Homo sapiens: one gene and its partners. The protein of the gene in region 2 interacts with the protein of the main gene of each other region in a biochemical or structural test. Each region holds a gene or a part of one and is shown on either strand. Other genes may lie near its edges.

Region 1 (7,036 bases), on a different chromosome or scaffold from region 2:
CCTCGTCAGCCTCGGATACTGTCTCCTACTCCCAACCCTTGGGCCCAATAGAGGAACCAGTTGAAAAGGAAGGCCCGACATATTTCCATCAGCAAGCAACAGGACCACCAACTCCTCCGTGTTGCCCAGCTCCCACTGAGAGTGGACATACAGTCATACCCATACCCAACACGCATCCCAGTCTGTGCGGAGCAGTCCATCATCATCCTCCCTAGCTTCGGACGACAGCCGACTAAGGTAGGTACTCTTATCCCATTTTACAGATGAGGAAGCCAAAGCACAGAGGGATTAATTTCTCCAGGATCACATAGCTACCAAGAGGCAGAGCCATGATATGTATAGACAGTTTGATTCCAGACTCCATGGTCTCAACCACTATGCCAGGCAGAGGGGAGAGAAAGATACAGTATGCCTGGGACACCTGGGTACATTTGTCAGATCCCGCCCTCAATCCACCCCAGGTCTGTCTTTGCCCCCCGAGGCTTGGGTTCAGTGTGACTTCAGCTGTGGGCTGTTAGTGCTGGGAGGTCAGAGAAGGAAGGGAATGAACATTTATTGAGCAACTCTTGTGTGCCAGGTCAGACACGAGGTTGTTGCACTCATGGATATAACAGTCCTGAAAAGAAAGATATTGTGGACCAGCCTGACCAACATGGTGAAACCCTGTCTCTACTAAAAACAAAAAAAAATTAGCCAGGTGTGGTGACGTGTGCCTGTAGTTCCAGCTATGCGGGAGGCTGAGACAGGAGAATTGCTTGAACCTGGGAAGTGGAGGTTGTAGTGAGGTGAAGTCGTGCCACTGCACTCCAGTCTGGGTGACAGAGGAGACTTGGTCTCAAAAAAAAAAAAAAAAGAAAGAAAGATATTGTGGTCCTCTGTTCACAGATGAGGTAATGGAGGTTCAGAGAGTTTAGGAAGCTGCCAACCAGTCTAGATTGGAGGCAGGTTGGTTTGACTTGAGAGGCCGTCCTTTCCTGCGACTCCCCAGGGAGCTAGCAAAGCTTGGGCAAAGGCTTTCCTCCAAGGCTTTCCTCCAAGGCTTCTGTTGTTCAGCTATTACAGTGTCTGCAGCCCCTGTGCCTGGTGTGAAGGGGCATGGGTTGGGATGGGCGGGGGAGAATCTAAGTGCCCTGAAAGGGGACCTGAGTTCTTGCAGTGGTGGGAGGGCAGGCTCCCAGGTGGGTCTAAAATCCAGGCTTTCATTCATTTCCACAGACCCTTTTGGAGCACCATCACTTCTCTGTACAGTGGCCCAGGCTCAAACCACCCTGTGCTCTGCAGGTCCTGGATCTCTAAGGGGTGAGGCCAGAGCTGCGGTCCTTCTGAGGCCCCAGCCTCCCCAGATGGCGAGGGGAATGGGCTGCTGGCCACAAGAGTTGGCGAGCGCATTCCAGACCCTATAAAAAGACAAACGCCCTGGCTGCCAGAGGCTTAGGCTCCAGCCTCGTGGAGGACGCTGCAGCAACTTGAACCCCAGGAATGCGACAGGGGCCTGGTGGAGCCTGCTGATGCCTGAGGGGTGGGAAGCCACCCTGCAGCCCAGGAGGGGCCAAATGGGCAGCCATCTTGCAGAGCTTGCCAGGCCCTGCCCTGCCCTGCCCTGCCCTCGAGGAGAGCAGGCACCATCTACTTAAGAAAAATCTAAATTATCCAGAACTTGGAAATAAAGCAAAGAAAGGATGCCATATCTTTGTAATATCATGTTGGAGCATTTTATAACAGGCCTGGCCAAGGATTATCTAATTATCCAGGTCAGGGTTTCTCAACCTCAGCCCTAATGATATTTTGGTCTGGATACTTCTTTGTTGGTGGGAGGGGGCTGTCCTGTGCATTGCAGGGCCCCTGCCTCTACCCCACTAGATGCTAGTAGGACACATCTCCGCCCCTGCCCCTCCCCCTCACAATTCCAGTTGTTGCCAAATGTCCTCTGGGGCAGAACTACTTCCCCTCCCCAATCCCTTGAAAACCACTGACCTAGGAGGGAATGTAACTTTGTTTAGCTCTCACTATTCTGTCCTCTAGAGATGCAAATGAATTCTGCCTGATAGGAAGATAACCCCAATGGTTAGAGTTTTATTGCCCTGTAGGACATTAACCAGCTTGGTATCTAACCTAGCAATCCTATTCCATCATTCTCTCTCCGGTGTCATAACTTCTGCTGCTCTAATTCCCTTTAACTCAGCTTCACACGCCTGCTTGTTCTCTTTTGAGTTGAACTAATCTTTGATATGTGTTCCTTGGATATTTTACTCACAGTTGTGTTTTCACTTTTTGAACATCATACTTTGACATAGGATTGCTTTGAGGGTGAAATGAGATAATGTAGCAAAAGCAATCAGTTTATCATGTCTGCCCAACAATTAGGAAGTCTGATAATTGTTTTTGCTTTTCCACATTGGTCCCCTCAGCCTGGCCTAGGCTGGAATGGTAACCCTGCCCAATAAAGGATGTAGGCCTGCCCACAGAGCCACCTGGGCATGTGCAGTGATCTAACCTCTCTGCGCTGTGGTTTACTCCTCTGTACAAATGAGAAAAATAAAAGTACCTGCCTCATGGGCATTCAGTGTGATAACACATATAAGGCATTAGAACAGTGACTGACAATATGCAAGTAATCGATAAATATTGAATGTCATTGTTGCTGCTGCTGCTGCTGATTTGCTGGAGGACTGGGGAGGGGTGATCAGGAAAGCCATTAAGAAAAGTTAGGGGTTTCAAGGAGAGAAGACACAGAGTTAAAGAGAAATCAGGGACAAACGATGGGCAGGGTGAAGAGGAATTCTTTACCTGAAATAATCCTTTGGCATAACTGTTGGGGGTTAGACCCTTTGAATCTAGAACAACCTGGGGGTCTCTGTGACTATAGGCTTTTTGGCTGGTGAGCCTGCTCTGTGGGGCCTGCATGATCAAAGTTCCTTCTGTTGATAGATAAAGCACTACAACTTAGAAGGTCTTCACTCATCCAGTTACCTCTCTCAAGTATACAATATCATCCCCATTTTATAAAGGAGGAAACTGAGGGAACAGAAAGGTTACATAACTTGTCTAAGATCACACAGCTAGTAGGTGAGTGGGCCTGGGCTCAAAAGCAGATTCTAGCTCCAGAACCCATTTTTATAACCACCATGCCATAATGGGCTGATTTCAGAGGCCCGTGCCACTGTGACATCCCACAGTTGGCCAGGATGTCAGCATCCTGGATCCTCCTCTTGCCACCCTCTGATCAGCTGCATATTCATTCCCAGGACTCCTTGCTCTCTCTGGGCCTCAGTTTCCTCTTCTATTCAGGGAAGATCCTGGGATTTCCCACAGACACAGAGCAGGCAGAGTCAGAGGTGTACCTCTAGCCCCAGGAAACCCGGGCCCCAAGTCTATTACCCTCAGCCAGTGCTGGCAGAAGGGATATGGAGGGACACTGCCAAGGGAGCCTATTCCCACAGACAGCAGTCACACCCCCGGCCCTGCTCGCACACACGGCAACTGAGGGAAGCCCTTCTTGCCCACAACCATCCCCGCCCCTGCCCCACCCAGCCAGTTTGGCATGTGCCAAAGTGAGGAAACCTCTGTCATAAAATGCTTGGACCTGCAAATCCAATTACCCATCAGTGGACACAGGCACCTGTATCACCACACATCTGAAGTTGAACTCACCACCTTCCTCCTCCCTACCCCCATCTGCAGTCTTGGTAAGTGATACTGCCATCTGCTCTGTCCACTTCTGACCCCCAAGTGTCATCCTCCCCCTCCCCCACACCTCCATCCCCACCTCCAGTCCTCACCATGGATTCCACCTGGCAGGTCTTTCTTAAGGCCACCTCACAGCCATCTTTACCATCACCAGTGCCTTGGCCCAGCCTCCCCTGTTTCCTGCCTGGATGACTTCCCTGGGCTCCCTGCCCCCTTCCCTGCTTCCCATCTCACCCCACGTCACCCCAATCCATGCTCCACATGGGGCCTGAGAGATTTTTCTAAATCCCCCCCTGACCTCTCTGTCTCTTGCCTCCAGCCCTTTGCCCACGTGGCTTCCTCTGCCCAGAATCCCCTCTCCCGCTTGGCCTTCTACAATGCGCTCCTTCACAGCCAGGCTACATAATGGGGGGCCCAGTACAAGTGAAAATGTGGGCCCCCACGTTCAAACAGTAGGAAATGAGTGCTGATGAAGGTACTAAATATAAAGCTTTTCCCTTTCTTTCAGCCCCTTTCTCAGCCTACTGTGGTGTCTTTTGATTGCTGTTCAGTGTTGTGCAGGGCAAGTGCAGATTGCCACAAGCGCCTCCTCCTAATCTTCCCCCTCCACCCTCACCATCCCACAGCCCGACATCCTGTGCCCTGGCCAGAGGTGGAGGTGTGGAGCCAGGCATCTCCCCTTCACTCAGACCCACCACCTCAACCCATAGTGGACATCCGGCACCCAAGGGTGTTGCAATCTCTGCTTCCTGGGAAACAGTAAGTACCCAGAATCGGGGAGGGCCTTGGAGGCTCAACCTCATAGGTCATTTACTGAATGGACTGCAGCAATGTCAGCCCAGGGTAGAGACAACCAGAGCCATGTCCTTCCCTGAGACACGGCCCTTCCCATTCTCCCACTCAGGCCTCTGCCAAGTGGCCCAGGACCCCAGAGGGCAAAACATCAAGCTGAGAGCCCCTCCTTAGAGGCAGGGAGATGGCAGAAGTCAGGACCTTTTGTGAGCCAAGGTTCCAAGCTTGAGGTGCATGTGCCATTGTCCCAATGGACTTCACTTACAAATCATAAATTCAAAGATAAAATTAATTAAAATCTCAATACTTTGACCACAGAGCATTCAACCCCAAATGTGGGGCCCTTCTGAGTGGGAGTCCTCTGGGACTGCATAGGTGGCACTTGTGTGAGCTGTCCCTGTCCTCAACCTTTAGGTCTCAGGTTAAACATCCCATACTTGGGGAAGCCTTCCTGATCTCAAGACTAGCTTAGGTTCTCTGTCAATATGCTACCATAATATCCCCAAATCTTGAACCTTTCCCATTTCATTTTAACTACCTGTTTAATTGGTTTTATTATATTTACTTGTTTAATCCATGTAATGAAGCTCTGTGAAGATGGGAAATGTGTCTATTTGGTTCACAGTGATATCCCCAGTATGTGCCAGGGATGTGATAGACACTAAAGATGCATTCGTTAAATGAATGAGAAAGGTCATGAATAATTAAACCTTAGGCCTCCTTTCTTGAAAGCTACGGGTTATTCTGGATGACTGGAAAGACCCCAACCCTTCTCTGCTACCTACAAAGCAGCCAATAGGGCAAGAGAGAGAGTGCCTACTGCCCTTTTCTACTCTGACTCCTCTCATCTCCCTCTTGCTGGGTTTTGTGGACATGAACAGTGAGGACCCCTGAGCTCGAAGGTGGCTGAGCGACCTTGGGTATCACCGACTTTCTCTGGGCTTCACAATTAAGGGGTCAGGTTAGGAGTCCTCACTGAGCATTCATTTCCCATAGAGCTCTGACATGCCAGGTGGCATTTGCTGCTTTGGAAACATTTCTGATTAGGTTTCCGACTTGCAGGGAACTCATAATACTGTCTCTATGAACTCTAGGCCTAACCCAAGGTTTTGCAACTCCAGCCCACAAACTAAAGAAAAACATACACAGGACCACGTGAAACAGTTAAGGGAGCCAATTTTGTTTCAGGATGGAAGATGACATAACCATTAAGATGTAATTTTTTTTTTTTTTTTTTGAGACAGGGTCTCACTGTGTCACTCGGGCTGGAGTGCAGTGGCATGATCTTGGCTCACTGCAGCCTCGACCTCCCAGGCTCAAGCAATCCTCCCACTTCAGCCTCCCGAGTAGATGGAACAAGAGGCATGCACCACCAGGCCCCGCTAATTCAATTTTTGTAGAGACGGGAGTCTCTCTATGTTGCCCAGGCTGGTCTTGAACTATTGGATGCAAGATTTCTTCACGTCTCAGCCTCTCAAAGTGCTGGGATTACAGGCATGAGTCACTGCATCCAGCAGAGGTAAAATTTAATATCCTCCAAGGTGGGGCAGAGTTTTTTTACAAAAGTAGTCAATGTCACAGGGAACTGAGGCCCAAAAATATGAAATCCTGAAGGGTGGGGTAGACCTAGAGCTCTCCCTGCATTCAGGGACATGGAGACTAACCCTATGGTGTAGAATGCCCAGAGTTTAAGAAATGCCTTCCTTGCCGGCAAAGGTGGCATTGGCCCTGCCAACATTTAATCCCACTCTCCTTCCACACTCAGGAGCTCAGAGTGTTTTCCCCTCATAGCAAGCACACATTTAGAATCCCAGCTTCCCATCAGCTCAAGATAGATTCCCATGGAAACCAGCATAAAGGAAAGGCAGAGATGTGTCAGGCCCTGGACACATGCAAATATGCCTCCTCCCTCCCAGGCCCTGCAGTTTCAGTGCAGGAAAAAAGCCCTGTTGAAAAGGTGGTTCCATTGTTCTGTCCCCTAGGGAGCCTGAGGCCACTGTTTATAAGAGGGCTTCCCCTAGAAGTCTTTCTGCCGTCACCCATCACCTTGGCAACACAGCCTGTACAAGAGCAGGTTCTGGCTAGGTGTGGTGGCTCACACCTATAATCACAGCACTTTGGAAGGCTGAGACTGGTGGATCACCTGAGGTCAGGAGTTCGAGGCCAGCCTGGCCAACATGGCGAAACCCCATCTCAACTAAAAATATGAAAATTATCTGGGCATGGTGGCAGGCGCCTGTAATCCCAGCTACTTGGGAGGCTGAGGCAGGAGCATCACTTGAACCCAGGAGGCGGAGGTTGCAGTGAGCCGAGAGCCGAGATCACACAGCCTGGGCAACAGAGTGAGACTCTGTCTCAAAAAAAAAAAAAAAAAGAGGTTCTAAAATCAGAGAGACCAAGCTGGAGGCCCTACCACAAGATATAGATGTGGGTGACCCTGGGTAATGTGCCTAAACTCTCTGAATATCAGTCTCCTTTGTCTTTTAAATGGGTCTAATAATGTTACTTACCCCACAGGAGTAGTTATAGGGATTAAATAATACAATAATGTAAAATA
Region 2 (5,460 bases):
GTAATGTCTTTAGCAGTGTGCGAACAAACTAATATAATGTCAGAGGGATGCTTTTGTATTCACCCCAAAGCCAATTCAGAACCACAACTGATGCAGCACACCTTGGGACTTGTTCAAATATGGCCCATATCCTTCAGCAAGGGCCTTCTCTACTGCTTATCCTCAACCAGGAAATTACCATTTCCTTAAACTATGATTTCCTCAGAGGACCCTGGTGAGTTGAAACCAAACAGCAGGTGCTAGGACACTGAAGGTGAGCTCCCTGCCTCCTAATCCTCTGAGCCCCTTTTTGGCCCTTTTCTAGATAGCCCAGACTCAAGCAGAGCTTTATGGCCTCACAGACAATATACGGAGATGATGCAATCTATAGTCACTGTGTAATATATAGCAGGCTGCTTCACATTCTGATATGTAACCTGGGCTAACTAACTTGCCATAGTTATATGTTAGGTTTGAATAATATATATTTTAACAATATTTTAAAAAATTAATAGTGAAATGAGGCTAAAGATGCTTAGAGAAAATGTTTTATTTTCATTAGTTGACAACTAGTTGTTCAGTTGAATGGTAAGTTTCACACTGCATCCTAAAATAAGACAGATACTCTGCTGGCAAGTAGAAAATAGACTAATTTCATTTTTTATCTGTTAAGCTCTCTTGATAAAAAAGGCAAACCAGGCCAGTTTTAAATTTAAGAAACAGAAACATTGTCAGTGCTTCTTGTATCAACACACTTCATATTCAGAACTACTCCCAAGAGATAACATATTATCTCCTTTTCAAAGATGGGGAAACTGAAACTGGGCATTATCTATAATGACCAAACCACATAGTAAGAGGCACAAGCCAGCATTAGAATTCAGATCTTACTTGAAAGTGTACAGCTTAAAATTTTTTAAAAAATTCCTTCCATTATAAATGTAGTACCTGCTTACTGGAGAATGTTTGGAAAAGCAGTAAGAAGGAAGAAGATGAACTCATGATCCTGACTCCCAGTGGTAGCCAGATCAATGTTTTGGTACATACTTTCCGATACTCTGCTATGTGTATTTTTTAAAGTGTGAATACATGGTATATCAAAATGGATGTATCAGTATTTTAAAAACTAAAATCTGATTTTAAAAGGAAAGCATATAGAAAATCTGAAAAATACTGATATAAAGAAAATTAAAGTCATCTAGAATTCCATTCATCCAAAATAAACATTGTTAATATTTCCATATATTCCCTTAGTCTTTTTCTATCAATTTTCTTTTTATATAGTTAAGCTTATAATGTACAAGATTTTTAAGGAGAGTTAACAAAGGTTTAAATAGATGACAAAAAGGGACTTGGTGACAGATAGTATTTGCCAATCAAATTATTCAACAGGTTTTGAAGGGCGTGTGCTAAACTTCTAAGGTGAATCCTGACGTGGATTACTGGATTACCTTTTTTGTTGTTTTATTTCACCCAAGTGCGTCTATGTCATTTACCTAAGTTTTTATGTGTGGAGTATTCTTTGTAGGAGAGGAAAGATAACAGCTGTAGTCTGATTAACAGTTTTTAGTGTCTCACAATGAAAAATAAATAATGTGACTTAAACATTTTGCATACTTAAATTTACATAGAGTTTTAGCAAGAAAATAAGGCATGACTGATAATGGCTCAGGAAAGTTCTAAATGGTGTAACAGACTAGATCTTATTAAAGTTCCAAAGAATTTATTATCAAAACTAAAACAAAACTTCAGTTGTACATAAAGTAATAAACTTTACAACAGCTGTTAAGAGAAAGTCGTGATGTAAGTTTATACATATTACCGAAGGCAAAGAGGACAAGCAAAGGAGAGCTCCAGTTGGAATGTTGATTACATTCATGCAGCTTCCTCTTGATTTAAACACTCATGACACATTGAATGAACTGAAAGAAAAATCAGCATTATATGACAGACCTCAAAGCACTTATACGGCACAGCCTATTTCTGGCAGCTTACATTTGGTTTTCTAATTTGAACACGGGTAAAACAACCCCTACAACTTTCTAAGATATGAGTAAATGATAGATGGAAAAGTTTCCTTTTTTTAGGGAAGCAGTCTAATATAAAATCCACAGGGTTTCTCACATCAAAACTTCTTAGAGAAAGCAGATATAACTTCAATGGATAAATAATTTAAATAATTATTTGAATAATTATTTAAATTCCAAATAATATCCAAGACTAGAAATGGCCGTGGTCAAAGACACTTACCACAAACACAAACAACTGGAGTTTATACTGTTGTATTACGTGGGGATTTCCAAACCACACAGTATTACCCCATTACTCTAATGGAACACCTTAAACAGTTTATTGCCTTAAAATCTGCTTTATTAAAACAAATTGTAGCATGCAAGTGTATGTATGCACAGAAACAGAACAGCTAACCCTTCAGATACCTGAGATTAGAAATACCAGTATTTGCTGTGAAATGTTGGCTTCCCCGCTAAACATAAAGCAATAGATTCTGCTCTATCAGTGTTCCCTACACTACTAAGGTATTGTGCACTGCTAACCCTTGCAGCTCTATTGCAAGGTCAAGGTGATTATCCCTATTTTAGAGAAAAGGAAAATAAGGATCAGGATGTTTAGAAATCTTTTAAGTAGCCCCATCTGAAGTCAAAGCCCATGGTCTTTCTTTCCATTCCCCAGGCAGCCTTCTGATCTTTAGAAACAGCAAGGGGACTGTCAACTAAGAAGTTAACGCATGTTAAAGAGAACACACCCTTAAGCAGGTAAAATAAGCATATTCACACACACATACTAAGCTTTTAAAAGTGTACTTATAACTGCAGCAGCTGCTAAACCAAAAATACATGCATCTTATATTTTGTAATGGAGAATGGAATATTCAGTGATTACAGTCATTTCAATTCTACAAGTTTTTTTGTTTGTTTGTTTTTTGTTTTTAAATCAATGGCTGAGCAAAAACTGAAGAAACAAGTAACCAATCTCTCTAGCTTTGTTATATACATCCAGCTAATGCCATCAAAGATGGCACTAGGTTATGTTCACACTGATTACATGGCCTTACCCTACCCTTGTTTAGTTTGGCTGTTTAGTAAATAACTTGTTTTAAATTGTGATTTAGCCGGGAGCAGTGGCTCACGCCTGTAATCCCAGCACTTTGGGAGGCCTAAGCGGACAGATCACAAGGACAGGAGATCGAGACCATCCTGGCTAACACAGTGAAACCCCGTCTCTACTAAAAATACAAAAAAACTTAACCAGGTATGGTGGCACATGCCTATAGTCCCTCAGGAGGCTGAGGCAGGAGAATCGCTAGAACCCGAGACGTGGAGGTTGCAGTGAGCTGACATTGCGCCACTGCACTCCAACCTGGGCAACAGAGCGAGACTCCATCTCAAAAAAAAAAAAAAAATTGTGATTTAAGTTGTTGCCTGCCTTATGCCCTCAATGAAGAACATAGGTATGCAAAACTATTGAGCTGTTATCTATTCTCAGTGACTGACATGATTTGTTTACAGAAGACAAAAGCAGATAGTATATCTGCATAGTGTTTTTCAAGGGCATTTCTAATAGAAATCTTACAATGGCTCAGTGAAAAAGGCATTACTACTATATCTTCTTTATTCATATAGTGTCACAGCAATTAAGAAACCTGCTTAAGTGACCCAGCTAATAAATACAACAAGCTGGGTCTTGAACCCAGGTCTCTGAATGCAAATCAAATCATGGTCTCACTATAGTTAAGACTAATAAATGAAATTAATAAATTCTGGATGATAACTCTTTCTAACTTTTGAATCCCTTATGTCTCTGGCATCCTTAACCTTAAGATATTCTTAACAGCTAATTTCAAAGGGATACCCATCTGGTGTACATCCTTTTCATCTACTGTATCTCTTAATTTCTAAGACTTACATCATCATATGGGAAATTCACAACACCTTGCTGAGCAGTATCCCGTCTTCGAAAGCTGTCTGTAAAACAACACAGTAAAATTTATGGTTTTTCTTTAAATGGTTTTTCTAAAATCATAAAAGTTAGTTATTTTGGCATTGAATTCACATTGCAGTAACATTTAAATTGTGCAACCAATTAACATAAACAAAAGACCAAAGCAAAGAAGCCAACTATATGAATAGTAAAAGATTTAATATGCAACAAAGTAACAGGCAGAAGTTGGCCAGCTGTGTTTTTTGTTTTTTTGTTTTTTTAGATCTGGAGAAAATACCTTACCCAAAGTCAGTAAAAGCTGTGCAACTTCCATGGCCATTACTTCATTGTGATAAAAGCACCGAATTTCTAGCTTCTTAATAACAAAGATACTGCTTAAGAAACAGATAAAGAGTCCCCAATATAACAAATGGGCTGTAATCAGTTTCTCTACCATTTCAGCTCTGCCCTATAGAAAAGGATTTTATTTTAATTTCACTCTTTCCAAATATTTCACATTCTGGGGAAAAATTCATTATTATCTGATCAAAAATGCACAAGTTAGCTGATTGTGTTTTAGAACATTTTAGTAAAATTTAATTGTTTATTTTAATGGCAGATTACTTACTAATCTAAAATAAATTCTGGAAAAAAAACCAAAAAATTATTTTGCCAGATATGCTTAATAGTAATCTGAAAAAAACTACTAAAGCAAGAAAAAATTTGGGAAGAATAAAAGTTGAGAAGCACTGAGAGATGAAATGTAATAAAAACTGTGTCTTGGCTTGTGGTGATGACACGACCTTATAGAACTCACCTGTAAGAGCCCTCAGTTTGACGCAGCAGGCGATGTAGTCGTCGAAGGTGATCTTTCCATTGGTGCTGTATCGTTTTGCAATTGAATTCACAGCCTGGGGACTCAACCTAAATCCTAAAAGAAAAGCCATCCAGTAAAAAGGTTAAAGGATTGCAGAAGCTCATTAAAAAATAAAATAATCAAGCACTATTTTATTTTTTAAGACTGCAGACTCATATTAATTATGAACACACACAATTTCTAAGAAAACAGAAACTGCCTTCAGGTAGCAATTATTTATTTATTTATTTATTTACGAGAGGGAGTCTCACTCTCGCCCAGGCTGGAGTGCAGTGGTGTGATCTCGGCTCACAGCAACCTCTGCCTCCTGTGTTCAAGTGATTCTCCTGTCTTAGCCTCCCGAGTAGCTGGGACTGCAGGTGCATGCCACCACGCCCAGCTAATGTTTCTGTATTTTAGTAGAGTCGGGGTTTTACTGTGTTGCCCAGGCTGGTCTCGAACTCCCGAGCTCAGGCAATCCACCCTCCTTGGCCTCCCAAAGTGCTGGGATTACAGGTGTGAGCCACTGCACCCAGCCTGGTTTTAAAAATAAAAATCAACTTACTTCTACCAATGAATGGAGAGTTCTAGTAAGCCATACCTACCCATTGTTGTCAGGGCCTTCTGCAATTCTTGTGGGTCTACTGTTCCACTCCTGTCAGTGTCAAAACTGATAAAGTGTTGTC
Region 3 (7,036 bases), on a different chromosome or scaffold from region 2:
TGAAATAGGCAATGTTGGCAAAACAATGTCTGTTACAATAAAATACATTAGACATTTAAATAAATAACCTTAAAAACTATGTGAAGGGACATAAACCCAGTCGATTGAATCTGGAACAATGTTTTCTGCACAAGCGAGTACAGGCATACCTCTCGTTAAAACTGATGTAAACAGAACGAACCATCACAATCCTAAAGAAGAAGCCAAGCGGGGCGGGGGTAAGGTGGGGAGAGGTGGGGTGGGGTGGGGTGAACGGAGGCCAAAGTGGGTGAGGGAAGTAGCAAACCAAAACAATACTGACTGAGGTAGCAAGACTCTGCTCAGTGCAGAAAAATTGGCTTATGAATAAAAATTAGACTGTGATATCAAATTAAATCCGGATCATCATGCAAAAGACACAATACATGCTATTTAGTTTTAGAAAAAAAACCACACACATTCATTTCCTAAAATCTGCTGCCAATTAATTTGCTGACAATGTCTGCTGGCTCAACTATTTTTTTTATACAAGGATGAGTATTAAACAGAACACTGTACATGCTTTTTCATCTACAAAAAAATATTTGCATAAAATAGTGTTAGTTCTCTGTACATGTCAATGGACACTTTAATTATGTGTATAAAAAAGGAAAATCTTGCCCCACTGGAGTCAGAAAAAGCAAAACAAAATCTAGAGTATGAAACCTCCATCACCAGCCAGTATGTTCATGTGAAAATTCAGCAGAAATAGACAGTTGCTTTAAACAATAAAAAAATTAATTGATTAAGTTAAACATCTTCTTTATGGAAAACTGTCAGTCAAGACCAGAACATATCGCTAAAGTTAGTGTCTGTGCTATAGACCCAGATCACCAGGGGCATTATGAGCAGCACAAACGGCCAGGAAATCCCATCGGTGCATGCCGAGAACGAGCAGGATTTGGTGGCAGGCTGCACACACTCTTTACCAGGTTCCAGGTAGTTGCGGGCCACAAACTTGAGCGTCTCATCCATGAGAATCACGGGCAAGGAGATTTTCAGCACCATCAGCCACTGGGTCACGTTCAGCGGTGTGATCTGGAAGATGAGCTGACACACAGGGAAGACGTGTCACGCCTCCAGCCTCCCCTGGAAGGAGGTGGCTGGTCCCAAGCCCCACCCAACCACTTACTGGCAAGGGTTCGACATAGAGGATCAGGAAGTGGAGTGACATGGACAGGCAGATGGAGCCCACGAGCCAGATGTTCTCCCAGGGGGGCATCCTCAGCAAGGACTGGTTTTCGGACAAGCTGCAGAGCAAGGAGAGGTGGGGAAACGCACCCCCAAGGCAAGGCACGTGTCACAGTGGCAGTAAGACCCTGTTGGACTACACTTCAGTAAGGCGGCTGTTAATGTGGCACCATCCGCTGACCTACCTCCACTTTCTACAGTGGCAAAGTTGAAGAGAATGTCCTAATGCAGGACAAACTGTGAATTCTGTATCTATGTTTTGGCATAGCAGACCCCATCTTAGTGGGTTCAAAGCTGTTCCCAATTGCCCTGGAGACTTGGGCTATTTAGAAATTTCCATTTTTGTCACGGGCTTAACTGGATGGTACCATTTGTCTGTGTGAAAGGGTGAGGTTCCTTCCCTGTGGGTGCTGGCATACAGGGGTACCAAAGTTCCTATTTTTGGCCCCCACGGTTTCTTTTAAGGAAGAGCTCCTAAGAAACACAGGGCTAAGCACTCCCACTACTTCCTGGAGGTGACGACAGCTCATGCTTTTAAAACTGGTATTGCCTGTTCTCCTTTCTTTTGGGAAGGGAAGAACTGTCCTGTGATCCTCAATCAACCGTGACTACACACAATTCCCCGGTGCCCTGGCAGTCACCATGCTCGCCTCAGCCTGCCGTGAAGGTGCACTAACCTGTTGAGGGCGTTACACATTTCTATAGTTACTAGAACAGAGAGCGCCATTGTCATCGGGTATGGGGATTCAAAGATTGCACAATCCACGCCTTCAAAGTCCGGGTTGTCCTCTTTACACTGTAGGAAATGACTCTGCAAGAAAATCCAATCAAATTCCTATCAGCCCAGTATATTTCCCAAGTCCAGGCTCCAACCCCATACCAAGCCTAGCACAGACCAGCCTGAATGCAGAGCCAGCCAAGAGGTTTACCCCAATTTCTCGGAGAAGCCCTGGTCCTTCAGAATCATCTTAGATGTAACTGTTTATTGTCTGAGTCTTAAGATGATTTGATAGATACCGAAACCACAGAAAGGTCAAGGCCTCACAACACTTCTCATGTAAGGTACAGAAAGAAAGGTGACTGAGTACCAGCTGGTAGAAGGACACTCTTGGACCACCGTCAGCAGCAATGAACCACCATGCAGCAGCACCCACGGTAGCAGCGCCGACGTAACCTGGGAACAAACACAGTGATGCTGATGCACTTGCCTCTGCAGGGCTCGCTGCCACCGAGGCCATGCAGGCCAGTCCCCACAAGGACGAAGATCAAAGACATGGGACAGTGATGGTAACCGGGGCCTGTGGTGCTACCACCACCTGCTCACGCCTGGTAGCCAGAGCAACTAGACCCTGGTTTCTGAAGGACAGGGGTGTTTCTAGAACAGAAGAACTGGATAACTTTTCCTCCAGAATGTGTGAGAAAAAGCACTTGCTCCATCCTGTGCCAACCTTTCCCCTTGCCGTGCCTTCTCCCCTCAGTGGGTAGTACTTCAAGGCTGCAAGTGTGTGTGTACTCCATGTAAGGCTGCACAGTTTGAGGGACTAGATTACACCAGGACTTTTGGACAAACTATTGCTGCCTAGTTGTACACAGATTTATTTGCTCCATTAGAGGCCCAGCAGCAGTTTTCTAGGGAAATGCTGTCAGGAGCTAGGGTGGAACACTGAGCAGCATGGCCCTGCCCTCAGCAGCTTCTGGGATTCCCCCCAGTATTAGCTTTGAGTTCAGGAAGTTTATTGCAAAGAAGCAACAAGGTGCAGCAGAGAATACACAGAGTTCAGACGAGGCAAATATCCCCATGTGGTAGCATCAAAAACAACAAGTGCATATACCCACTAACCCACGAATTACAGTGGAGCATGAAGGCCGCTGGCTGCAAGGATGAGGCACTACGCATGTCCGGATATGGAAGGATCTGACAAGCAGGAAGAAGGCAAGACAAGGGTCAACATGCAGGTGTGCACAGCATGCTGGAATCTCTCCGGAAGGGCACAGGGTACATGAGCACCTCAACGCCAGAGGGAAGTGACTGGCCCAAACCCTTTCCATTCTATGCCATTGTGTGCTTTTTGAATTTGAAGTCATGTGAATATATTATGAAAACACAATGCCTTCCTATGGGATCCCAGGGAAGTGATTTCACCTCACTTTCCCAATCTATGAAATGGGGAAGAACCCGGGGTGAGGAAGATGAGGGCTAAAGAGATGATTTATATATAAAAGGGACCAGCCACTGCGCAACCCTTCTCTTATGGAAACAGGGACTAAATTTTATAACTTGGTGACAATTATCTATTTAAATCCCACCTATGAACTCTTGGAAGGCAGAACCTAGCGTGAATCATTCTTATCCCTTTGCACAGAGGGCTCAATCTGAAAACCCTGATGTTTAATTGCTCATTCAGAAAAGCCCAAGTAAGGGCAGGATGCTAAAACTGGAACTAACTGTGAAAGGACTCTGGTAAATTGGATGTATAGTTCATCGAACTGTAAGAGGGCATCTCTGTCTTTTGCTACCCTATACGGGGATAGAAGAAAAAACACGCTTTTAAGGGATGAATTTACAAAATTTCAGCTCACAAACATTTTGTTTAAAAATCAGTAATATAAAAAAATTGTACTCACAGCCAATAGCCAAGTAACGGAAAAAGAGCCACCCGCTGATCAATGGTTCCTTTGGGTTCCGGGGAGGTTTATTCATGATGTCCAGATCAGGAGGGTTGAACCCCAGTGCAGTGGCAGGCAGGCCATCTGTCACCAGATTGACCCAGAGCAGCTGAACAGGAATCAAAGCCTCGGGAAATCCAAGGGCTGCTGTCAGGAAAATACTGTTTCCAATCAAGAAAAGAAGACAAAGAGAGCCCAAATGACTTCTGGCCACTATTTAAAGAGCATCATCAACCCGCCCTCCTCCAGAAAAATAAATGACAACAACTTCAGGTAATCTGTAAAATACTTATACCCAATTTTGAATTAAAGCTCAATTTTACTTAGTTTATTACTTAAATTCAGATGACTGAGGCCAGGTGCGGTGGCTTATGCCTGTAATCCCAGCACTTTGGGAAGCCAAGGTGGGCAGACTGGCTGAGCTCAGCAGTTAAGAGACCAGCCTGGGCAACATGGTGAAACCTCATTTCTACTAAAACACAAAAAAATGGCAGGGAGTGGTGGCGCATGCCTGTAATCCCAGCTGTTCGGGAGGCTTGAACCCAGGAGGTGGAGGGGACAGTGAGCTGAGATCGTGCCACTGCCCGAAGCCTGGGCGACAGCGAGACTGTCTCAAAAAAATAAATAAAAATAAAAAAATTATTAAGCTGACTGAGATAAAGCCAACTTTTGGAGGGCAAGAATTTCATGTGACTACCTGGTTAATGTTAGCTCAGTCTCACGTTAAAGAGGATTCTTTGCACATTGGGGCAGCTGCAGACAACCCTCCCGAGGGCCAAAGCACCACTGCTTCCATAAGGCATTTCTGTCTTGCCCACTCCCCTCTTCCAACTCAGGCACAAAGACCAAAGCTGCTGCAATCTGGAGAGCAAACTGCGAGAACTGGGCTCCATGACCCATTTAGATAAAGGCGTACAGTAAGTGATGCTGTCACAGAGACCTACCAGACAACTTCCCCGACGTTGGACGAGATGAGGTAGCGGATGAACTGTTTCATGTTGTTGTAGATTGCCCGCCCCTCCTCAACGGCAGCCACAATGGTGGAGAAGTTGTCATCCGCCAGGACCATCTCAGAGGCGGTTTTAGCCACCGCAGTGCCAGAGCCCATAGCAATGCCAATCTCGGCTTTCTTCAGAGCAGGAGCATCGTTCACGCCATCGCCAGTCTGAAAGGGAAAGCAATGGTTGGGTCAGCCAACTGGCATGCCACATTCATACCCCTAGGCAAAAGCCCACTGAATGGGAAGCAGGAGGAAAATGAATAGAGCCGTAGGTCTCTTGGCAAAGAGTTTTAGAATTTTTGTTTCATAAGTTGGTGTCACAAAACACATTTTACCTAGGAAATGTAAAATTACCAAATAAGTTTACCGAAGTGGGACAAAGGGGACTTCAAATTTATCTGTATTATCTTACTAAAAACAAAAACACAACCTATGTGGCAGTCAAGAGGAAGCACTTGTATCCACATGGATAAATTTCAAGTAGAAAGATGCAGATTGCAAAAATATGCAAATTTTTATTTTTCTGAGATGGAGTCCCGCTCTGTCGCCCAGGCTGTAGTGCAGTGGCGCAGTCTCGGCTCACTGCACGCCTCCTGGGTTCAAGCGATTCTCCTGCCTCAATCTCCCGAGTAGCTGGGATTACAGGCGCCCACCACCACACCCAGCAATTTTTTGTATTTTTAGTACAGACGGGGTTTCACCATGTTGGCCAGGCTGGTCTTGAACTCCTGACCCCAAGTGATTCACCTGCCTCGGCCTCCCAAGTGTTGGGGTTACAGGCATGAGCCACTGCACTCGGCCAAAAAATATGCCTTCAAAAGCATGCAAAAATAATACTGTCTACAGACACAAAAACAGCACTCCCATGTTTTTAATATTTTTGCTAAATTCCAACTTCAGTTACCTCTGGGGGAGAGGAGAGTACACTTATAGTATGTTTCAAAACTAAGATTTTTTTTTAAAAGAGAAGAAAGTAAATTTAACATAATGTATCTGGGTGAAAATCAGGTGAGGGGAAGAATACTGGAAATGCTTCATCAATAGCCAGCTCTTAAAGAACTTAAAAGCAGGGTGATCCAAACAACTGACTGATTACATCCTCAATTTTCAGAAAACTTACAATAAAAACACGTCTCATTTAAAAAAGAGACTAGATCACCAGATTGTTCCTCTGGGACTGATCTGGAAGGCCCTTCTGGGTTTTAAACGACTCTAGGATCTTCCCTGCAAGTAGCACACAACATGCTAACCACTGATTCACCGAATTCTAGAGAAAAGACCCAAATCATGACAAATTCCAAATTAGGGAGCTATGACAAAAAAATTCAGTGGTCAAAATTAGAGGCTACTATGTGCTTGTGTAGCCTGAGTCACCTGTACATGTTCAAACATGCTCACCATAGCTGTAATCTCATCAAAAGACTGAAGAAATTCTACGATTTTAGACTTGTGGGAGGGTTCAACTCGAGCAAAACAGCGGGCGTTCAGGCAGGCGTCTCGCTGGGCGGAGGGGTTGAGTTCATCAAACTCCCGGCCTGTGAAAGCTTTTGACGTCACGTCCTCATCCTGCCCGAAGATGCCGATGCGGCGACAGATGGCCACAGCAGTGCCCTTGTTGTCCCCAGTGATCATGATGACCCGGATGCCTGCTTGCCGGCACAGCTTCACGGAGGAGGCCACCTCGATTCTCGGAGGATCCAGCATGCCCACGCAGCCAACGAAGGTCAGATTGGTCTAAAATAAGAGCATCACTTTAAATAAAAGTGGCAAGTTCTAGTTTTTGTCCCCTAGTTTGAAAAATGCCCAGTTAAACATTGAGACAGGTTTCTGCATTTTTTTTCTTTTTTTTTTTTTGAGGCGGAGTTTCGCTCTTGTTGCCCAGGCTGGAGTGCCATGGCGCAATCTCAGCTCACTGCGACCTCCGCCTCCCAGGTTCAAGAGACTCTTCTGCCTCAGCCTCCAGGGTAGCTGGGACTACAGGTATGCGCCACCACACCTGGCTAATTTTGTATTTTTAGTAGAGATGTGGTTTCTCCATGTTGGTCAGGCTGGTCTCAAACCCCCAACCCCAGGTGATCTGCCAGCCTCGGCCTCCCAAAGTGCTGAGATTACAGGCATTTGAGCCACCGTGCCTGGCGGTTTTTGCATTTTCTTATGAGA
Region 4 (5,500 bases), on a different chromosome or scaffold from region 2:
GACAAATTATTTTTACTTAAGGGGTTATTCTGAAAGGTTTATCGAAATCAGATTAAGTTATAATAACAAAAAAAAAGAAAAGCAATCTTACATTTGTATAGTCCTCATAGTACTTTATATATTATCATATCTCCCCCTCCTTTCTTCTCTCCTACATTCCATCCCTCTTCCCTTCTGTCCTTTCAAAACCAATTTCAGAGACTGCTTTTCCTGTCTAATCCATGTGAATTAGCCATTTAATTCCTCTGATTTTGTCTCCTTTTTAACTTTTGGCCATTTTTCTGTCAACTCTTTCATGAGAAGGAAGAAATAGGGGATGGGTTAACTGCTGAATGGACTTAGGTATTATCATTGGATTCATATTTCCTGTGTTCTCTCCAGTCTTCTTCCTTTTGGGGATCCCAGACAGTTGAGATAACTGAGTGAAGTTTGTATTTGTGACCTCTAGGAAACAGGAGAAAGGAAGAAATAAGGAAGAGGGAAGATACAATGAAGTCAATGTAGACATTGTTAAGAAATTTATTTGCAATTCTTATTTTTTGTGTTTTTTGTTTGTTTTTTAAATAACATCATTCCTTAGATAAAAATGCAATCTTACAGGAATATACAATAGTGTCTCACACAGAGATGACCCTGAAGCTCTCCTTGAAGGGTTGCCCCTTCTAGATTCCCTGGCCTTTCTCGAGGGTGAGAAGGCCCATCAGGCGAGGCCTCTGACAATGGGATTATTTGAGGATTACAAACTGTACAATGATATTTACAACAGTAAGACTGTGAAGTCGTGGAGCCTGGAGGGGAGGGTGTGGGGGTGTGTAGGGGTGTGGGGAATGGTGACAACGGAGGCACTGCCCATCTTTCTGTGCCTCTCTGATAACAGGCATGATACAGATTGGTTTGGGGGATGAAGGTGGGTTTGAGCTGGAGGACATGAGGGAAGGGGAGATTAGAGGAGCTTTATCTGGAGCGTTTCACAGGAGGAAAGTTTTGCATGGTAGCTCTGGTGGATTAAAATAAAACAGCAATATTATGAGAGTAATAGACCTTTCAGTGCTTCACCAACGGGGAATCTGTCGCCCTATTTCTTAATGAATGTGCGTGTTTTGCCATGGGTTATTCTCATCCACTACCATCACAGACTTGTCCAGACATGCTCATCTCTGTTTCCCATGGCCTCACTCCCACGAGGCTTGGGGGAACAGCATGCATTCTGGCCAGGACAGGACATGGCAATGGGGTGGTATATAACCTGGCTGGGATTCAAGAGATGGATTTCAGGTGTGGGTATGGGCTGCAGCTGGATGCATAGGTGGCCTGAGGCAGGAAAAGAGAAGGTGCGCACAGCTTTGGGATGCTGGAGACACCTCCTGAAGGGGATCTTTCTGCACAGGACTGTGTGTTTACAAATCATCTTCCCTTGATGTACAAGTTCTTTCCTTTTCCCCTTTTAAACATTGGTGTAGTTTCTCCATATTGGGAAGTCTTGGGGTTGGGGGCTATGTCCAGGACCCAGTGACCCACCCTCTTTTGCTTCTCTTGTGACTCTACAGGAGAGACTTCTCTTTTCTCCTGGCCAATGGCCAGGAGAGGTTTCTTCAAGGGGGTCCCTGAAACCTGCAGCCTCAGGTTCCTTGGCAAGGGAGCCACTGCTTGGCCTGGTGCCTGCTCACCTTTTTTTCCTTATTCCCTTGGTAATAAACTTGAGATCTCTAAGATTTCCACAATGGGAATTCTCCAGACCCAAACAGTGAATAAGAATCATTCTGTCCATTTCTGCATTTCCTCACATAGAAATGACCCTCTCTTAAAACTTACAAACTCTTCCACCCAGAGCTTTTTTTTTTTTTTTTTGGATAATGACCTTGGTTTGAGGTGCATGAGTGAATTTTAGAAATGAATGTACAATGTATGTCTGATTCACACCAGGGGAAGTGGCACAGTGCCCTTTCTGGGATCCCTACAAAGTCAAATTCCTTAGATCCTGAGAAGTGGAGTGCATGGGATGCCCTGAAAAGGTGGGGGTGTCCCTGTGTAGCAGCCAGTAACTGATCTGAAGGGAGAGGACTTGGCTCTGGTGATGTAACATTTCAAGCCTCTGTGTAATTACCTAGTCTTAGTCTTTTCTTCCTCATTCTTAGTAGAGACGTGGGGAACTTTCATGAAAAATGCTAATTCTGACTCCTCTCAGCGTGCAACAGATTTGTTACACTTCATCCACTCAGCTGCAAGATCTAGAGTGCTTTCAGAGGTGACTGGAAGAGTTCTCTAATACCCTACAAAGACCATGGATCTTTGCCACTTCAGGTGCTGTGGCTCAAACCTCTTAAAGTCATCCCAGGAAAAAGTGTTGATTGTAGTATTCTCTCAATGTATGTAAATAGAATTTATGTCATAATAATAGTAGGTTCTGATGGTACTACTTCCATCCAAGGGAGTCACTCTACTGCACCCTCCTTGTCTGTGTATACAGTGCTCACCCTTGCAGGAGCAGGAAAGTCCCTCATCTAGAGCTCAACCCCAGCCCTTGTGCCTTAACGGTGTGTGTCTGTGTAGTGAGGGGGGTTGTTCAAGCATCCCCCGTCAATGTAGAGATGTGGCAGAAACCCGTTCACCTGTTGTATTGGTATCTGGCTCCAGAAAGAAAAGTTTCATTGCTTTGACATAAGAATAAATTGATGAATGAAGTTAAACCCAGAAGAGGCTTCACAAAGAGGTCGTGTAAGCATCTGCCCATGGGACTCCCTTCCACGCACCGTCTTTCTCACTAGGTGTTGGGGAGGACAGGGAGCTGGGGCTGGGGAGGGCAGTGGGAAGAGGGAGCTTTGCTTAGGGACAGGGAAAGGTGCCCCATTCCTGACAGTTGTAGGACTTTTCTTTCCCTCCTGTCTTCCCCCTCAACCTCCTCAAATCGTAGCCTCTGGAGAACCTGGACTCTGGCGGCTGAGGGCCTCCCTGGGAGTGAGGTTTGGGCTTCCCCGCCTGTCTTTGCACAGCAGCCTGTGTCAGGTGGCACCTGGACAGCCTGAGGGGAGGGACATCAGCAGAGGGGGGACAGGGTGGCAGACACCCCCACATCCCACCAGGTAGGCTGATGTGGCTGGAACAACACCCCCAGATGGAATGAGTACTCTTCTCACCTTCCCAAATAGATCCTTGAGATGTCAGCGGCTCCACCACACTGGTCACTGTGGGTGGGTAAGCTGAACACATCCTTCCATGAACTGGGAAGAGGCACAGAGGGAGTCAAAATATGCCCTTTTCTTGCCTCCATTCTCCTCCCAGTCCTCTCTGTGCTGACATTTGCCCCAGAGGCAGGTCTTCTTTAAAATATGGAAACGGCCCAGACTCCATCAGCAAGTATTTGCCTCCCCTGGGGTTTAAAGAGGTCTTCTGGGAGTCAGCAGGCCCTTTTTGTGGCCTCTTTGCTGAATTGTTTCTAATCCTTGACAATGATATTTCAATTCTTGGCCTCTAGGGATGGAGATGCCATCATCCTCCTTTACCACCTTTCCCACGATGAGGCTAAAAACCCCGATGACCAGGGTTCCACTCTATCCCTGACCTACATTCGTGTTTTCTTTCTTTGCCTTTAGGAGTGGTGGCTGTGTATCTTCAGGACTCCATAAAGTAGCCACCATCTTTTGGGTGACTTCCAAAGTCCTCATTTTCTAGGTGTCACTGTTGCTCAGGAGATGAACTTGGGCATGGAAAGGTCTGCTTCTCCTGAGGTTGCCCCACTGTCTTCAGCTGCATGGGCAGGAGACATGCTGGGTGGAGAAAAGCTGGGAGAAAGTAACGGGTAGCTTCACTCCAGACAAGCACCTGGAATTTGGAACTGGGAAATAGAATGAGAGACATTGCCTTGTTCCTTTGAGTGGATTTCCCAGTGAGAGTGAGGCCTATTGGATTAAGAAGAAGGAAAGGGGTTATAACTAGTACCTTCTGAATCAAAGCTGGGAAAAATTCTCCAAGGTCTGGAAATGAAAGAGGCAGGGCTGGTCGGAGGACAAGAATTAAGTTGACCAAACTGCAGACCTTAAACTGTTGTTTCTTCAAGTCCCTTGGGCCCTTAGCCCCTGACTGTTTTCTCCTGACACTTGGGGGCTGTCAGGAGGGGTATGGAAGATGTGACAATTATGTTTTACAAGGTCATGGGGAAAATTCCATTTTAGGTGGAGAGTAGACATCACTTGGAAGATTGTGCTGTGGTTCATTGATGTCACTACTTGTGCCAGTCTGTTCTGATGACAGGCATCATACGCCAGTCTTATTCTAGTGGATCAGAAGGTCAAGCTAGGATAGTCCTCCTGCCCTAGACAGGGAACGCCTGTGTGTACCTCCTGGTAGAAATCTTGGGAACTTTTCAAAGGATGATACCTAAACTCAATTTCTAGAGGACCTTGATGGCAGTGAAAAGGAATCAAGAAAGTTTGGATGACTTGGGTGTGGATATCCATAAAGAAACTCTGTTTCTAGACTGTGTTAACCGGGGAGTATTGAGTACATTTCTCCACTTTGTCATGAATCAGTCCAGCAAGCTGTCATAGAGGAATGGACTGTCCCTTATTGTAATTTCTAGCTTACTTATATATGTGCCAAGAGGGGCTCAGGGAACACTAGGACTGGAAGAGATTTAATGGGTCAATTCTGGGTGAATGGTTGGGTCCTGTTTTCCCCAAAGCAGTCCCTTTTCAGCCACCACTGTTGACATACATTTGAAGGACACAGCACCAAAAGAGTGATGTTCTAGGGAGATATAAGTGAGCATTAGAGATGCCCCCACAAAAATCTGTTCCCACCCCCACTGTGAGCTCCGGATGCCTCTTCCCTTGTCCTGGCCCCCTCCCCGGCAGCCCAAACATTAGGGCAAGCCTGAAGGAAAGGCTGCTCCAGAGTGAGGAAGGGATGGAGAAAGGAGCACGCAGAGTTGACTTTCAGATGGATCAGGGTTTCACCAGTTCCTTTCTCGAGCCCCTGCTGTCCTTGTTGGGTAGAGCAACAAGAATCCGGAAGTGAGGATGCCCCTCCCTCCAAGCAGCCTGACTTTAATTTTATCCTCCCGGTTAGTGTACACTTTCCTAAGGAAGCCAAAGAGAAAATTCCGTGTGGTGGAAGGGAAGGGAAAGCCAGCTACCTCTTCCATGGGGGATGCGGATGACGGCCCAGTGACTGAGGGCTCATCAGAACGCCTCCCTGCACCTCACAGTGAAGGGCTGTTCTTGGAGAAGTACCAAATCAGATGACCAGAGCAGAGTGGACAGAGTGAAGACTGGAATAAAATAGGTCCTGGTCTCTCACAGCAAGAGGCGGTACAAACATACCCAGCAAACGATTTTGGAAAAATTGAGGGAAATGTAAGCAAACACAAGATATGCAAAACAGTAATGTCCAAACCTGTTTGTGGAGAGCAGAATAATGACTACACTGGTGATACCTTTGCTCATTGTGCAAACTAAAGAAAACTTGTTCCCTTTCCCCCAACCACATATAGAAAAGCACTTGA

Evidence for each region.
Region 1: the proteins of SRI (region 2) and CACNA1S form a complex in vitro, tested with the Homo sapiens proteins (one study listed by BioGRID).
Region 3: the proteins of SRI (region 2) and ATP2A2 form a complex in vitro, tested with the Homo sapiens proteins (one study listed by BioGRID).
Region 4: the proteins of SRI (region 2) and CACNA1C form a complex in vitro, tested with the Homo sapiens proteins (one study listed by BioGRID).

Annotation. Positions count from the first base shown.
Region 1 is NC_000001.11:201,102,408-201,109,443, forward strand, and holds part of CACNA1S (voltage-dependent L-type calcium channel subunit alpha-1S), read right to left. Parts: intron 1-7,036. UniProt on the Homo sapiens protein: Pore-forming, alpha-1S subunit of the voltage-gated calcium channel that gives rise to L-type calcium currents in skeletal muscle.
Region 2 is NC_000007.14:88,204,604-88,210,063, forward strand, and holds the end of SRI (sorcin), read right to left. Parts: coding exon 5,380-5,460; intron 4,850-5,379; coding exon 4,736-4,849; intron 3,963-4,735; coding exon 3,904-3,962; coding exon of another isoform or gene 3,886-3,903; exon of another isoform or gene 3,592-3,885; intron 1,902-3,591; coding exon 1,875-1,901; 3' UTR 512-1,874; downstream 1-511. UniProt on the Homo sapiens protein: Calcium-binding protein that modulates excitation-contraction coupling in the heart. Contributes to calcium homeostasis in the heart sarcoplasmic reticulum. Modulates the activity of RYR2 calcium channels.
Region 3 is NC_000012.12:110,340,233-110,347,268, reverse strand, and holds part of ATP2A2 (sarcoplasmic/endoplasmic reticulum calcium ATPase 2), read right to left. Parts: intron 6,611-7,036; coding exon 6,275-6,610; intron 5,042-6,274; coding exon 4,821-5,041; intron 4,038-4,820; coding exon 3,835-4,037; intron 2,384-3,834; coding exon 2,298-2,383; intron 2,021-2,297; coding exon 1,887-2,020; intron 1,269-1,886; coding exon 1,151-1,268; intron 1,069-1,150; coding exon 799-1,068; 3' UTR 1-798.
Region 4 is NC_000012.12:2,692,952-2,698,451, reverse strand, and holds the end of CACNA1C (voltage-dependent L-type calcium channel subunit alpha-1C), read right to left. Parts: 3' UTR 502-5,500; downstream 1-501. UniProt on the Homo sapiens protein: Pore-forming, alpha-1C subunit of the voltage-gated calcium channel that gives rise to L-type calcium currents. Mediates influx of calcium ions into the cytoplasm, and thereby triggers calcium release from the sarcoplasm.